2 separate regions of the Homo sapiens genome follow, and region 1 is linked to region 2. A link means that fine-mapping ties the variant in region 2 to the expression of a gene that starts in the linked region. Tissue or cell type: cerebral cortex. Region 2 holds a variant in brackets; the other region holds the start of a gene. All regions are shown on one strand. Distances are from middle to middle.

Evidence for each region. PIP is the estimated chance that this variant, and not a neighbour inherited with it, causes the effect.
Region 1: FTO starts here. The variant in region 2 is fine-mapped to the expression of FTO in cerebral cortex (GTEx, PIP above 0.99). The same link has a PIP of 0.9 or more in T cells, amygdala, anterior cingulate cortex, atrial appendage, blood mononuclear cells and caudate.

What each region holds. Positions count from the first base shown.
Region 1 is chr16:53,700,074-53,708,073 of GRCh38, reverse strand. FTO (FTO alpha-ketoglutarate dependent dioxygenase) reads right to left here and starts at 3,918. Exons shown (of 9, transcript NM_001080432.3): 1 at 3,845-3,918. The coding sequence starts at 3,889. RPGRIP1L (RPGRIP1 like) reads left to right here and starts at 4,215. Exons shown (of 27, transcript NM_015272.5): 1 at 4,215-4,271; 2 at 7,344-7,435. The coding sequence starts at 7,351. RefSeq lists enhancers at 3,696-4,105, 3,720-4,220 and a silencer at 4,256-4,305.
Region 2 is chr16:53,870,286-53,878,285 of GRCh38, reverse strand. FTO (FTO alpha-ketoglutarate dependent dioxygenase) reads right to left here. Exons shown (of 9, transcript NM_001080432.3): 5 at 4,421-4,500. Among named protein-coding and RNA genes, the nearest start is that of FTO-IT1, 170 kb to the left of the region's middle. The variant A/G (reference allele first, on the strand shown) is at 3,714.

The DNA.
Region 1 (8,000 bases), 170 kb after region 2:
CACTGGAATTCTATCCACTGTGTAATAAAAAGGAACAAAGTACCAATATATGCTACAACATGGATGAACCTCAAAAACATCCTGGGTGAAAGAAGACCACATATTGTATGAGTCCATCTATATAAAAATGTCCAGAAAAGGCAAATCTAAAGAACAGAGTAGATTCGTGGTTCCCTAGGGAGGAAGTAGAATTGAGAAATAACTGCAAATGAATACAAAGTTTCTTCTGGAATGGAACTGTTCTAAAATAAGACGGTGGTGACAGTTACACGACTCTGCAAATATGCTACCAACCATTGAGTCCTACACTGAAAACAGGTGAATTTTATGGTATGTAAATTATACCTCACTCAATAAAGATTTACAAAAAGAGAGATATGCAACCTCATTAGTCATCACTGAAATGCAAATTAAAATCAAATATCACTGCACACCTACTAGAATGGTTAAAATGTAAAAGACTGACAAGCGATGAAAAGATATGAAACAAGTAGAACTCTCATTTTACATTCCTACTAACAGTTGGTAGGAATGTAAAAGGGTGCAGTGCATTTGAATATTGTTCCCCAAAAAGATATGTCCGAATCCAAAAACCCGGCACGTGTGAATGTAACCTTATTTGGAAAAAGTGTCCTTGCAAATGTAATTAAGTTGAGGCTCTTAAGGATCTCAGGATCATCCTGGATTTAGGACGGGTCCTAATCCAATGACTGGCATCCTTTTAACAGAAAGGAGAGAGAGATTTGAGACACAGAAACAGAGAGAAGGCCATGTGAAGATGGAAGCAGAGAAGTTATGAAGTGATGCTACCACAAGCCAAGGAACACCAGGGACACTAGAAGCTGGAAGAGGCAAGGAAGGAGTTTCCCCTAGAGTCCTTCAAAGGGAGTATGGCCCTATTGATGCCTTGATTTCAATGCCTCATCTCCAGAACTGTAAGATAATAAATTTCTGTTGTTTTAAGCCACCAAGTTTGTGGTAACTTGTTGCAGCAGCCATAAGAAACTAAAACAAATGGTCAAATCACTTCGGAAAACTGGTAATTTCTTCATAAGGTTAAACAAAGAACTCCCCTATAACTAAGCAATTCTACTCCTGGGCATTACCCGACAGAAATAAAAATGTAAAGACTCTTAGGTGAATGGTCATAGCAGCTTTTTTTGACAGAAATGAAAATGGAAAGACTCATACATGAATGGTAAAAACAGCTTTTTTCATAAGAGTCCAAAACCAGAAACAATCCTAATGTCCAGCAACAAGTGAATGAATAAACAACATGTGGTATCTCCATACAGTGGGCCACTAATTTGCGATAAAAAGGAACAAATTATGGATACATACAACAACATGGATTAATCTCAAAAACCATTATGCTGGCCAGGCACAGTGGCTCACGCCTATAATCCCAGTACTTTGGGTAGCAGAGGCAGGAGGACGGCTTCAGCCCAGGAGTTCCAGACCAACTTGGGCAACACAGCAAGACACCATCTCTATTTTGAAAAAAAAATCATTACGCTGAATGAAAAAAAGACCCAAAAGTATACACTGTATGCTTCCATTTATATGAAATCTAGAAAATACAGATGCATCTACAGAGACAAAAAACATATCAGTGGTTGTTTGGGGGCCAAGGTGGAGGGACAGACTAACCACAAATTAACGAGAGGGAACTTAGGAGAGAAATGTTCGCTATGCCAACTGTGGTGGTTTTGCAGGTATATACATTTGTCAAAAGGCATCAAATTGTACACAAAAATGGTTGCAAATGACTGTATGTAAATTATACCTCAATAAAATTGATTAGAAAAAGAGAAGATAATTCATGAGCCATTGGACACTTTACATTTAAGATTTAAAACAACTACTTATACTTTGTTCTAACAAATAATATTAAGCAAACAAATTTTAAATGAACAGCCAATTTTTTAAAGAAAAAAGGAAGACAATTTGCTCTACTAATTCAACATGTTTCACAAGCAGAAAATGGGAAAAGCCTTGAATTTGGAGTCAGAAGACCTGGCTCAGAGCACTAGTTTCACCTAGCAACCAAGTGGCCTTGGGCAAGTCACGATTTACCTACAAGTCTCAGTTTCTAAATCTCTAAAATATGGATGACACTAGTAACTCCCTCACAGGCAATGGTTATGGTTTCAATAGAGTAAGAGCTTCTTTGGTGCAGTGATTCTATTTCAGCCAAAATTATAATCCCAACTTATGGCAAATAATAGGTGCTCAACAAATCTTCACAGAATAAATGAAATACTTTAAAAATAAACCTGAAAGATGAGAAAGACATCATGCACAACACCATGAGGTGACATTTGTTTCTTTGCACTGTGTAGACTAAAGCAGAAGGGTCGCCCTCTTTGTGCTTATCTTTAATATATTATCCACATCATATGCAGACTCAAGCATGAAAACTTCTGGTCCCTTACGAAATACTGCAATAACTCAGGTCAATATAGAGCAGATTTTATATTTTAAATCCTTAGGTGTATTGCCCTAAACAGACTCACGTGTAAGATGAAATTCTATGAAAGCAAGAACTGTGTCTACGTTATTTAACACTGTTATTCACTGCCAATATTTGCCTAACATAGAGTAGGCAGCAAATGACATGTGCAAAGGCCCTGAAGCCCGATAAAGTATAGTGAAGAGTGACTTTTAAGAAGGCCAAAGTGACTGGTAGGCAGAGAGCAGAGTGTCATATCCAATGGGGTTGTGAAAGCAGGTAGGGTCCAGATCATGCAGGATCTTGTAGGCAATGTGAAGTTTTGCCTTTATCCTAAGAGCAACAGAAAGCCATGGAATATTTTTAAACAGGTGGTTGGCAGAGTAAGGAGAAAGGAAAGGGACATAATTATATTTGCATTTCACGAAGATCTTACTCTATGGTGTGCAGAAGAGAATGGTAGTTGAGGGAAGGGAGAGAAGGTGGAAGAAGAGTTAAGTTAGGGTGTAGAGTGAGTGTAGGCCAATCAATAGGCTATTCCAACAGTCTATTAAAAAGATAATGGTAGCTTGGTCCAAGGTAGTGGAGATGAAAAAAAAAAAAAGTGGGCATATTCCCAATATACGTAGACAAATCAACAGGATCTGAGTTTGGGAATGAGAGAAAGGAAAACACTCAATGCTTCTGAGCCTCAGTTCTTCATCTGTGAAGCTGGGCTGTTATTTATACTCCATCTGTATAATATCTATCTTGCAATCTGCTGTGACAATGATATGAAATAATTTAAATATTATGCACTTAATACAGTGCCTGACCCACAATAAATGCTTTTTAAAATCTCTGTTGCCATTATTATGGTCATCCCATGGAATGGCAACTACCAGAAGCTGAACATCAAAGGTAGAGAGGAGCAATGTAGTTAAAGATTCATATCCACAGCGCTAAAAGACACAAACTGTTATCAGCCGGTCACGGAGACAATTGTTCCAAAGAAACACAGCTGACTGCACAGATATTTCATCTAAGCCGATCTCAGTCCTCAGAGACCATTATGAGAAAGCACAGCTGGTATGATCACAGTCATCTGAGAATCCGGTAAACTGAGGCACAGGGATGGCGACAAATTTAACCAAGGAATAGATGCAGAAGAAGGACAAGGAAATGGGTATCTTGCTTCTCATTTTTGAGCCGATCCAACAAGACTCGGCCTGCATCCTGAAGAGCACGAATTTGTAACATCCCCTCTAATATCTCCAGGTCCCTTGCTGACAAGGCCCTGTCATCCCTTAGTTTAACACCGCGCATCCGCTCGCCATCAAACCAAGCCCTTCCGGTTCCCTGATCCTTGCTCACAGCGCACGAAGATCTCCAGGCCCCGGGAGCCCGACATACCTTAGCTTCGCGCTCTCGTTCCTCGGCAGTCGGGGTGCGCTTCATGCTGCCACTAAAGCCGCCTTCGCCACCGCAAGCTGCGTAGATCCCTCGCCCTGGACCCCGCCTCCTGCATGTAGTTCTCTCAGCGTCCTGCTCCCGTCTGGAGCTATTCTCCCTCTGAGTAGAAAAAACTACAACTCCCAGGATGCACCGCGGCGACACCCGCGAGCGCCACGGGATTTAGCACAGGAGAATTTCCCAGGTCCGACAGCTGGAAGAGCGTAGTCCGCTACCCCGCGAGCAAACAGGCTAGAGTCCAAGGAGAACTACATTTCCCAGGAGGCTACGGGAGCCTGCCATGTTTCTCCCGTGCTCCTCTCGGCCAGCCGCCCGCCACGCTGTCGGCGCTATAGCAACGGTAGCTAGCTGCAGGGCCAGTGGCACGGTGAGTACCCGGGAGGATGGGGGAGGATGAGGGTGGGTGGAGGTTGCTGACCCTCCCCACTGCAGCGCGGGCCGGGGTCCTAGGGTCCGCTCTGCCGCCTGGAGAAGGCCCTGGAGTTGGCCCTGGAGTTCTGCTGGCGTGAAAGCAGCCCAGCCCAAGACACCTCCACATCCTCAGGCCTGAATCACAGGCCGCCCTTTATCCCCACGTCCAGGACCAATTTGAAATGTTATATCCCAGCCATGAAGGTGAGAGTTGATGCTGCTAATTGCCATCTCTATCCAGATCCTGCAAGTTGTAGGTCCCTAACACAGTTTGCTCATTTGCCCTGGATTAGGAGTTGGTTGGTAGACCCTAAACCTCCTGAGTGGTCTATTGTTTGCTTAATTATATATTATTTGTTTATCATGTGATTACCTCCATAACTTGCTAGCTTCATAAAGGCGGGGGTTTTGCTTGCCATTTTAATCTCAGTACCTGATATTCATTTATTCATTCAATAAATATTTTTTCTTTATTCTTTTTTTTGTGTGTGTGACAGGTTCTTGCTCCGTTGCCCAGGCTGGAGTGCAGTGGTAAGACCTCAGCTTACTGCAAACTCCTCCTCCCAGGTTCAAGCGATTCTTCTGCCTCAGCCTCCCGAGTAGCTGGGATTACAGGCGTGTGCCACCACACCCAGCTAATTTTTGTATTTTTAGTAGAGACAGGGTTTCATCATGTTGGCCAGGCTGGTCTCGAACTCCTGGCCTGAAGTCAGCCGCCCGTCTCGGCCTCGCAAAGTGCTGGGATTACAGGTGTGAGCCACCACGCACAGCCAATCATTCAATAAATATTAATGTTGGTTCCCACCCTGTACCAGGCACTGTTCCTGAACAGTTGTGAACAAGACTAATACCCGTCTCAAGATGTTTATCCTTTTTTAGTGGAGACAAACAATAATTTTATCTGATAACTTCAGATAGAGGCAGTTGCTATAAGAGATACAAGCCATGCTTGGTGGCACGCACATGTAGTTCCAGCTACTCGGGAGGCTGAGGTGGGAGGATCACTTGAACCCATGAATTCAAGGCCAGCCCGGGCAACATAGCAAGACCCTGTCTCAAAAAAAAAAAAAAGAAAAGAAAAGAAATAAACAGTGAAGAAATGTAAGGAAGACTACTCTAACATAGGATGGTCAGGGAAAACCTGTCTGAGGAAGTGAACTGAGCTCCAAAGATTAAGGAACCAGCTAATACAAAGGCCTTGAGCAAGACAAGGGTATGGGGGGTTCGAGGAAAGTAAAGAATAATGTAAGTGAAGCATAGTGAGCAAAGAAGGATAACATAAGATGGTGTTGGAGAGGCATTGCAGCATTGTGCAGGGTTTTTCAGCTTCTACACTATTATTAACATTTTGGGCTGGATAATTCATTATTATGTCTCCTAAGCACTGTAAGATATTTAGCATCATCCATGGCCTCTACTCACTAGATGCCAGTAGCATCCCGCTTCCTTGTTGTGACAACCAAAAATATCACCAGACACAACTATTAATACTTTCAACTACCACCTTAAGTGAGTTAACTAATCTGTGTCTCAGCTTCCTCATTTGTAAAGCAGGAATCATTTGAGTAACAGCCTCACAAGGATATGGTGAGACACTTCATTCCTATAACAGAACACTTAGAACAGTACCTGGCACATAGTAAGCGTTCAATGAATGTTAACACCATCATCATCATCATCATCATTATTATTTTTAAAGTGACCTTAACTCTGTCATGGAAAACTAATCATTTTCATACACGGGCCTATGTGTCAACAGGATCCTAAAAATTGACCTTTTCTATAGGAGTACTTCCAAAAGAAGTAGATGATCTCCCAAGGATTTGTCTGTTAGCTGTTTCTGTAAAAGCAAAATGCAATGGTTCTCCACCATTTGCGAGTTGTAATAAAAGTTATGAACCCTCTTTAAAAGATATTGCATATATACATATACATACAAAATTTGGTAAACCATCTCTGGGTTCACAGACCCTGAAACCCCATGGACTCCATTCACTCACTCAACAACTATTTAATGAATGCCTGCTCTCAGAATGCACCACGCTCTATGCTAGCCTCCAAGAATACAGAGCTGAACAAGACAATGAAGCTTGCTACTGTCTTGGTCTTTACATTCTAGAACCAATATCCTAGAGCTTAAGAACTCTGCCCTTTAGAGTATCTTCATTCACAGTTTGCATGTAGCTTACTAGGTAGATTGAAATGAAAATATAAAATCCTTTATTTTTGCATACTAGATATTGTGTGGACCACTCACATCCATACTCAAAATAGAGTTACTATGGTGTATTTCTGTAAAGAATAGAAACTACAAAAATACTAGAATTAGCTAGAGAGCCTATATGTTGAAGTAGTTGAACCCTGGGTGAGACCTAGGCCTCATGGCAACAAAGGCAAGACACACACACAAAAAAACACAAACCCAGTTGGTAAATTTATGCAACGAAACCTCTTTCACAAAACTCACAAAATGCACAGAACTGCCCACTCATTTGTACATCAAGCAGACAATATTTGAGTAATATTGACATCCCAGGCACATGTGATCAGTGCTTTTAATTTACTCATCCCATTTACCCTTAGAATAACTCTCTGAGATAGGTATTATTTTCTCCATTTTTAAAACTGAGAGACTGAAACTCAGAGAGTTTAGGTGGCTTGACTAGTTTGTTAATGATAGAGCAACCATTTGAATCAAGTTCCTGACCTGAGTTTTTTCCAAGATATCTGCTTTCTTTTGGAGGCTGGGGAGAGGAAAGGGATGGAGAGGAGGTATTTCTTAAATGATAATCTTACTTCATTTCCTAAGCAAACTATAGGAAATACACTGTTGAAAGGAACACTGTCTCCATGACTGAATGTAGTAGTACTATTAGAATAGAAGCTTTCATCTTCTCCAAGCAGCACATGTGGACAATAAGATGCCCATTAAAGTTCTAGTCCCTTTTTCGTTTTATTTGGTTCATTCCATTGCATAGTTAATGTAATAATTTGGAAAGAGTTTATTTGAATTTTCTTTTTTCCACAGCTAGGCCATGTCTGGTCCAACTGATGAGACTGCAGGAGACTTGCCTGTGAAAGATACAGGTCTAAACCTCTTTGGAATGGGAGGGTTACAAGGTATGGCCAGCTGTTATTTATTACAGTTATGAACTTTGATCACTGACTACTTTTAATTTAAAGTATTTCTTATACTCATACAAACCAAACCATTTAAGTAACTATATAGTCCTTGATTGGACTAAACAAAAAGATGGAGAGTTTAGAACACATATGGTATTTTACTACATGCATCAGTTATCAACAGCTCATAGAAAATGTACAGTCCCCCCTCTGTTCTGATAAAGAATTAACATAAATCATCTTTTTAAAATTCCTCACATCAGTAGAAACTACATAGAGAGTATCAAGCCTCCAAACTGAATTGCCTGGTTTAAATTACATTCAGTGTTAAAACATTTCTTTGTGTTTAAATTTTATATGGGAGGAAAGGCCGTATTTTAAGTGTTTTGCCTTTTAAGTGGAATATCTCACATGATAGTGACTTTTTTATCGAATTAATATGGATTAAAGGTTTTCTTTATCCTTTTATCACTTAGTAGTTGCTGTAGAGCTAAAAAGCACTTTCAAATTGAGAAAGAAAAGCACTACTTTAAAGAACAATTTAGAACAGAGAGCTGTGTTT
Region 2 (8,000 bases):
TCTGGCCCAGACCAGAGTACAGTGGCGTGGCATGATCTTGGCTCACCGCAACCTCTGCCTCCTAGGCTCAAGCAATTCTCCTGCCTCAGCCTCCCAAGTAGCTGGGATTAAAGATGTGCACCACCACGCCCAGCTAATTTTTGTATTTTTAGTAGAGACTGGTTTTACCATATTGGACAGGCTGGTCTCGAACTCCTGACCTCAAGTGATCCACCCCCCTCAGCCTCCCAAAGTGCTGGGATTACAGGCATGAGCCACTGCACCCAGCCTACAACATCTTTTTAAAATGACTTCTATCTAGAAAGTTTCCCTACTTGCACCTTTACTTTCCCAAGTATGGAGTGAGCTACATAGGTTATTAATTGCATTTTCATGCAAGATTAGAAACAACCTAAATTTCTTAACAATAGGAAAACTAGTTTAATGACGTATGGTTGCAGAAAACAAAAAGAGAGAGGGGTGGGATGTGGAATAATTTTTTTCTGGATGTATAGTGTTTTGTTTTATGTAAATAATCTATAATCAGGCCTAGTTTGAGATAGGTTTTTTTTTTTTGGTAACAGCTTTATTGAGCTATAATTCACGTCATAAAATTCAAGCATTTAAAGCATATAATGCAATGTTGTTTCGTATAGTCACAGAGTTATACAAATATCACTACAATTAATTTTAGAGCATTTTCATCACCCCAAAAAGAAACCCTGTGCCATTTGGCAGTCACCCCCAACCCCAACTGATTTCTACCAACATTTCCAACCCTAGGCAACCACTAATCTACTTTCTATGTCCATAGAGAGACCTATTCTAGACACTTCATATAAATGAATTATATAATATGTATCTTTTGTGACTGGTTGCTTCCATTTCGTATGTTTTCAAGAGTTATTCATGTTGTAGCATGCATCATTACTGTATTCCATTTCAATGCCCAATAATATTCAACTGTATGGATATGCCACGTTTTATTTATCCATTCATTAAGTGATGAACCTTTGGGTTGTTTCCACTTTTTGGTGATTATGAACATTCCTGTAGAAGTTTCCATCACTCTTGGGAAACTACCTAGGCATGGAATTGCTGTGTCATAGGGTACCTTTGGATTTAACCTTCTGAAGATGTGCCAGACTGTTTCCCAAAGTGGCTGCACCACTGTCCATTCCCTCTGGCAGTGCACATGGGTGCCACTTCCTGCATGTCCTCACCAACACTTGTCACTGTCTTTTTTATTCTAGCTATCCTAGTGAGTGTGAAATGTTATCCCGTCGTGGTTTTGATTTGTATTTCCCTAGTGACTAATGACGTTCAGCATTTTTCATTTGTCTATTGGCCATTTGTATACCTTCTTTTTGTGTGTGTGTGAAGACGGAGTCTTGCTCTATTGCTCAGGCTGGAGTGCAGTGGTGCAATCTTGCCTCACTGCAACCTCCACCTCCCAGGTTTAAGCGATTCTCCTGCCTCAGCCTGCTGAATAGCTGGGATTACAGGCATGTGGCACCACACCTGGCTAATTTTTGAATTTTTAGTAAAGACGGGGTTTTACCATGTTGGCCAGGCTGGTCTTGAACTCCTGGCCTCAAGTGATCCACTCACCTCGGCCTCCTAAAGTGCTGGGATTACAGGCATGAGCCACTGCACCCAGCCTGTGACATGTTAATTCGATTCCTTTGCCATTTTAAATTGGATCATTTCTCTTTTGAATTATTGAGTTCTAAGAATTCTTGGAATATTTGAGACACAAGTGCTTTATGAGATATATGATTTGCAGATATTTTCTCCCATTCCATGGGTCCTCTACACTTTCTTTATGGTACCCTTTGAAGTACAAAAGTTTTTAACTTTGATGAAGGCCAATTTATCTGTTTTTTTCTTCAGTTGTTTATGCTTTTGATGTCATATCTAAAAAGCCATTACCTACTCCTCGCTAAGTGCTATATATTGATGAGTAATTATTACCAAAGTTTACTGAAACAAAACTACAGAACCATATATATAGTAGGCTACCATTTATATTTAAAAATATTTTTGAAATTACATACATTTTTACTTATATATTAAATATCACCAAAAGAGTAACAAGAACCTTTAAACATTGGTTGCCTCTGGGAATGAGGGGCTGGTTGGCCTGAGGAGAAAGAGACTTTAACTGTATACCTTTAGGTATTTTTTTTAATTTTGAACCATTTGCATTAACTACCTATTCAAAATATAATTATTCATAAAATGTAAATTTCTTTAAAAAGACATTCTGTATTGAATCCCAAGAATATTCTGACACAATTATCAAAAACTAAAATCTAGGCCGGGAGCATTGGCTCACGCCTGTAATCCCAGCACTTTGGGAGGCCGAGGTGGGTGGATCGACTGAGGTCAGGAGTTCAAGACCAGCCTGGCCAATATGGCAAAGCCCCATCTCCATTAAAAATACAAAATTTAGCCGGGCTATCTGCTACATTCTATTCTGCACTGTACATACTCTTTAGACCATAAGCATCTTGAAGACACTGAATATAACCATTCCTGTTCACAAGTCCCTACAAGAATACCTTGAACACTATAAAGTTCAATAAAAGTTTGAAGAGAGAACAAACTGAAATCCCTTCTGAATAGTAGTTCCTACAATCAAAACTTGCTGATGATTTAATCTCTCTTGCTTTATTATGTACACTGTAGTGTACAAATGAAGACAGAATAACCTTCCACACAGTGAACTTTAGTTGTTCCCATCTCCTATTAGTTTTTCAACAGAATAAAATGAAAAGACAGTAGTAGCAGTAGAAGTAATTTAATAATAGTAGTGGCAAACTTCTTTGAATGTATACCAGTCACTGTTCTAAAAAGACTTACATGTATTAACTAATTTAATCCTCATAAGAACACTACGATTAGGTACGATTCTTATCCCCATGAACATATTTCCCAAGCTTTTTATTTATCATTTTGTACAGCCCTTTGAACCCAGCACTAATGAGACTGTCCACTCTTCTGGATTAGATTAGGAAAGACGTAGAAGGGCGCACTTAAGTAGCCATATACTCAAGTGATCCACAAGAAAGGGATTCTTAGGAGGGTTATAGCTAGAAAGACAGATGCCTATAACTGGGGAAATGAAATCCTTGTGTATAATACAAGGCACATATTAGATGCTCTATAAATACTTGCTCCTCCCTTCCTCCCTCCCTCTCTTCCTTCCTCCCTCCCTCCCTTCTTTTCTTCCTCTGTTCGTCCTTACCTACCTTCCTCCCTCGCTTCCCTCTTTTCTAACAGAACTCCCTTTAGGTCTCTAAGACAATTATTTCTGTGTTTATTTGTTTAAAATTTGTCCCCCCCAACTAAAGTTCACAAAAGTGGTGGGCATCATGGGCATGTTGACGGCTCTATCTCCCAGGCCTACAGTTTTGGACACATAACAGGCACTCAAATATTTAAATGAATGAGTGAATGGAAAAGAGAAGAAAGGGGAGAAAGGAAGAAAGAGGTGCTGGATGGGCTTGCTGGCATCTTGGTTTAAATACTCATTCATTCTCTCTCTGCCACACAGCAATATGATCGTTCCACTGGTAAAGCTACTTAATGACCAAAAGACACAACACTGCCGTATAGACTCACGCAGTACTGCCACTGGAAGACCTTGCACCTGTACCTCTCACTTTGTTGTACCACTTCCGCCCAATTTTCTCACACTTGTCCCCTGTAGTTCCATGAAAGGTCAAGCT[A/G]TAAAGCAAAGCATGGATAGCAAGCTTAGGTAGAAGGTCACTTGTAATCCCTTTCATGCCTTGCTCTCTGGAACCCCTCTTAACTGAGTACATGGGACCCCAACATGACTAATATGAGTTTTTCTCATTTCTTAGTTTTCCATTCTGAACTAGTCTGAACAGCTAACCATGGGCCATTGCAAGTGGTGGCAGAATTTAGCAATAAAGTCTGGGTTATGAACACAACTGTGGAGCTCAGAAACTCCTTGGCAACCCTGTAACTTTCTCTTTACATTCACATGCCCAGAAGTCTGACCAAAAAGTTAAGGGAAATGAAAATTCTCAACATCTGAACCCAGCCACAGCTAACACATGCACAAGCATAAAAATCTGCCCCAATTCTTCTGGTCATCTCCTGCCCTTGACCTTGACAGATACAACCCTCTAAATAAACCTCTAACTATAAACACTTGTCAACGGCATTTTCCTTCTCCAAGAAACATAACCCCAAGAAGCAAAACACACTTATCCCATGGCATGAATATGCTTTCTAAAACTGTATCCAACACAATCCAAAGCTCAAAAAGCAAGTAAACAGAGACGAAAGTCAAGTTAGATGGAAGCAATTTTCCCATCAAATACTCTTCCAAAGCTCTATAGTAAATTGCTCATTCAACCACTTCTGTCACATCCAATTAGGTGTGAATCACATTTTTATTTACACTTACCTCTGCCACTCGGTGGGTGGAACTAAACCGAGGTTGTGAACCGGCCAAAACACAGTGTTGGTGGGTGGCATTGAGATCATCTACAGGAAAAACACCAGAAATGTATAAAACCATATTTATTAGTCAGTATATACTATATATTATTTAACTAAAACACAAAGTAAACAGTAAATCTATCTTCCAAGAAATAACAATAACCAAGGAATCAATACTTACCTTGTATTCTTTAATCAATCCCTTATAAGTAGGTGACTACATATATATATATTCCATTATATGCGTATCTACTTATAAGTAGACATTATATATATGTAGATACATAACAAGTATAATAATATAAATATAAGTATACAATAAATATGATATACTTATATATACTTATACATATGCAAGTATATATAAGTAGATATATATAATCATATGTATATAACTAAATATGTATATATTCTATCATACAAAGTATGACACTTTGAAGAGTGAAAGGGGATGCTATTAACAATTATTCCAGAACAACAAGTATAAACCAGGACTGTCCTCAGCAAATGAGATATAGGGTCACTCTACTTATTTGTGGTCCTATTATGCCCACCCACTATAAAATTCACTATATATGAATTGAGCTTCTTTCACTTTCTCATGACACATCTACTTCTACCCTTATCTTTAGAATAAACCAGAATTTGGAGTTGCACACCTTTCATCTGAAAAATCTGCCTCTTTCCCTCCATAATCAAAGTATCAATTTTGCCCTAACAATTTTCCAGGCAATAAACCAACCAACTCAGCATGTTGCATGTTTGGCTCTTAGAACAGAACTCAAGTGTAGGGATTCACAACCCAAGAATGAAGTAGGTGGTGAATTCATCAGTTGAAGAATATTCCTAAAACCACAAGCAGTGGGAGAAAAACCAATGACCAAGTTGTTATATATCCTAAGAAATGATACCACAAGTCAGGCAAAATCTATACAACCTCTGCTCAGGACATGACTTCCTCTATTACAAAAAAAGAGAGTTGTAATGTTTCCAGCAATGGCATCCTATACAGGCAACACAAGATTTTTATCAAGATACCAAAAAAGATAATGACTTAAACCAAGAGGCAAATGCCACCAGGCCCCTTATGTATCAGCAAAAACAACCTACAATATCATCTCTAAACATAGAAAAGAAATGCAAGATATTAAGACAGGATTTCTGCTTATGAATATTGTGAAGTAACAGTGACAAGATTTACCCTTCTGTCTTAAACAACTACAAAACAAGCCAAAAATATGAATCAAAGGTTTCAGCAAGATATAATCCCATGGAGAAGAGAAACAAAATAGGTGAGAGATGCCTACAATTGCCCTAACTTACTCCATGGAAACAGTTTCAATGCCACAGAATAGAGAAGAGGAAGTCAAAACCCAGAGTCTCTGTTTCTTTCTTGCCAAGTTGAGAAGACAAAGACTGGAGTATAGGGAGGCCAAGGCCACAGGGCCTCGAAAGGCAGAATGCTGGAACAGAAACAGCTATACAGAGAGACAGCAAACAGACTGCAGGAAGGTTCCCTCAAGTATTTGGAAGAGCACTGACCTGTGCATGTATGAATAAAAATTTCCCAAGGGCCAAAAAAAGAAGCACCAGAATGCAGCAGGTGGAACCAATTTCAGATTTCACACACAGCCAGGAGTATTCTATGATCCCAGCAGCCAAAATGGCTCCCACTACATGAGATACTAGAAAATCCTTAGGAAAGCATCACTGCAGAAGTAGGGCTAAATGAGTCCTAGGTTAAAGGCTGCTCTAGTCCCACCTAGCAAGGCTTAAAACTAAGCCTCAAAAGGATCCAACTTCTGGCCAGGCACAGTGGCTCATGCCTGGAATCTCAGTACTTTGGGAGGCCGAAGTGGGTGGATTACCTGAGGTCAGGAGTTCGAGACCAGCCTGGCCAACATGGTGAAACCCTGTCTCTACTAAAAATACAAAAATTCGCTGGGCATGGTGGCAGGTGCTTGTAATCCCAGCTACTCAGGAGGCTGAGGCAGGAGAATTGCTTGAACACAGGAGGCAGAGGTTGCAGTGAGCCGAGATTGCGCCATTGCACTGCAGCCTGGGAAACGAGAGTGAAACTCCATCTCAAAATTTAAAAAAAAAAAGGATCCAACTTCTTAGTAATTTAATTATTCATTAGAGCAAAAGCCAAAAGTATGTAAAAGTATATAACAAAATCAGGCACCCAACAAATACGATGTGCAATACCCAACATCCATTCAAAAAGTAACAGAGAAATGAAAGATACATACACACACACAAAATATGCGAGGTAGTCACATCTCTCTTTTCTTCTAAATGTACATATCTGCCCTTTCATATATATATATAAGTGAAGCTTCTAAAGGTTAAACATGCAGTATCTGAAACAAAACTCACACTAAGTGAGATGAACAGCAATTTACAAACTGCAGAAGAAAAGATCAGTGAACTAGAACACATGAAAAATAAAAACTATGCAAAATAAAGTGGCTAAACAAAAAAGACTACAAAAATATGAAAGGGCATGAGTGACAGCCAGGACAATATTAAGCCATTTAATGAAAATTTAATTTGAATTCTAGGGAAGAAAGAGTGACAAAAACACACACATTTTTATAGAAACAATGGCCAAAATTCACCAAATTTCATGAAAACTATAAACCCAGAGATCCAATAAGCTCAACGAATTCTAAGCAAAAAAAGATATAAGACTAAACTAAAGCATGTCATAATGAAATGTCTTAAAATCAGTAATAAAGTGGAAAGGTTAAAGGCAGTCAGAAAAAGAGACATTAAATACAGAGGGACAAAGATTAGAATGACAGCAGACTTCTCATCAGAAGTTATAAAACTCAGAAGACAACTGGTGACAAAATACTAAAGGAAAAAACTGTCAATCTACTATTCTATACATAGTGAACACCCTTTCCAAAATAAAAGTGAAATAAAGACTTTTCAGAAAGAAAATGAAACAATTTATATTCAGTAGATTTACACTATAAGAATAGTTATGAAATTCTACAGGCAAAAGAAAAATAATGTCAGAAGGAATTTAGATCTGCTCAAAGGAATAAAAAGTAACATAAGTAACAAATATCATGAAAGAATAAATGCCTTTTTAAATCCAAAATAATAACAATGTATTCTGAGGTTTATAACATATGCAGACGTAAAACACATGAAAAAGCACAAAAGAGGATGGAAGGAAAAGTGGTACAACATTCAAAGTTACATTGTGGTAAATCAAAGATGTAAAGATATTATAAAACCAAGAGCAGTGGCTTTCAATGAGATGTAATTTTGTCATTCCTCACTCTGGAGAGAGAGACACACTGGAAACAGAGATGACAATTTATCAGAGTAAAAAACAAGAAGCAGAAACACACATGGGAACCAGTTCCAGGATAGAAAAACCGTAACTGTAACTACTGAATTGCTGGAGATTCAACGTAGACGGGACTGAGAGTTAAAAAGTCCAGGGGAGCTCCATCTTAGGGAACTCCCACACTTTTGTGAGTTTTATCTCCAAAAGCTCTAACAGGTTCTCACAGTGAAGATCCAAA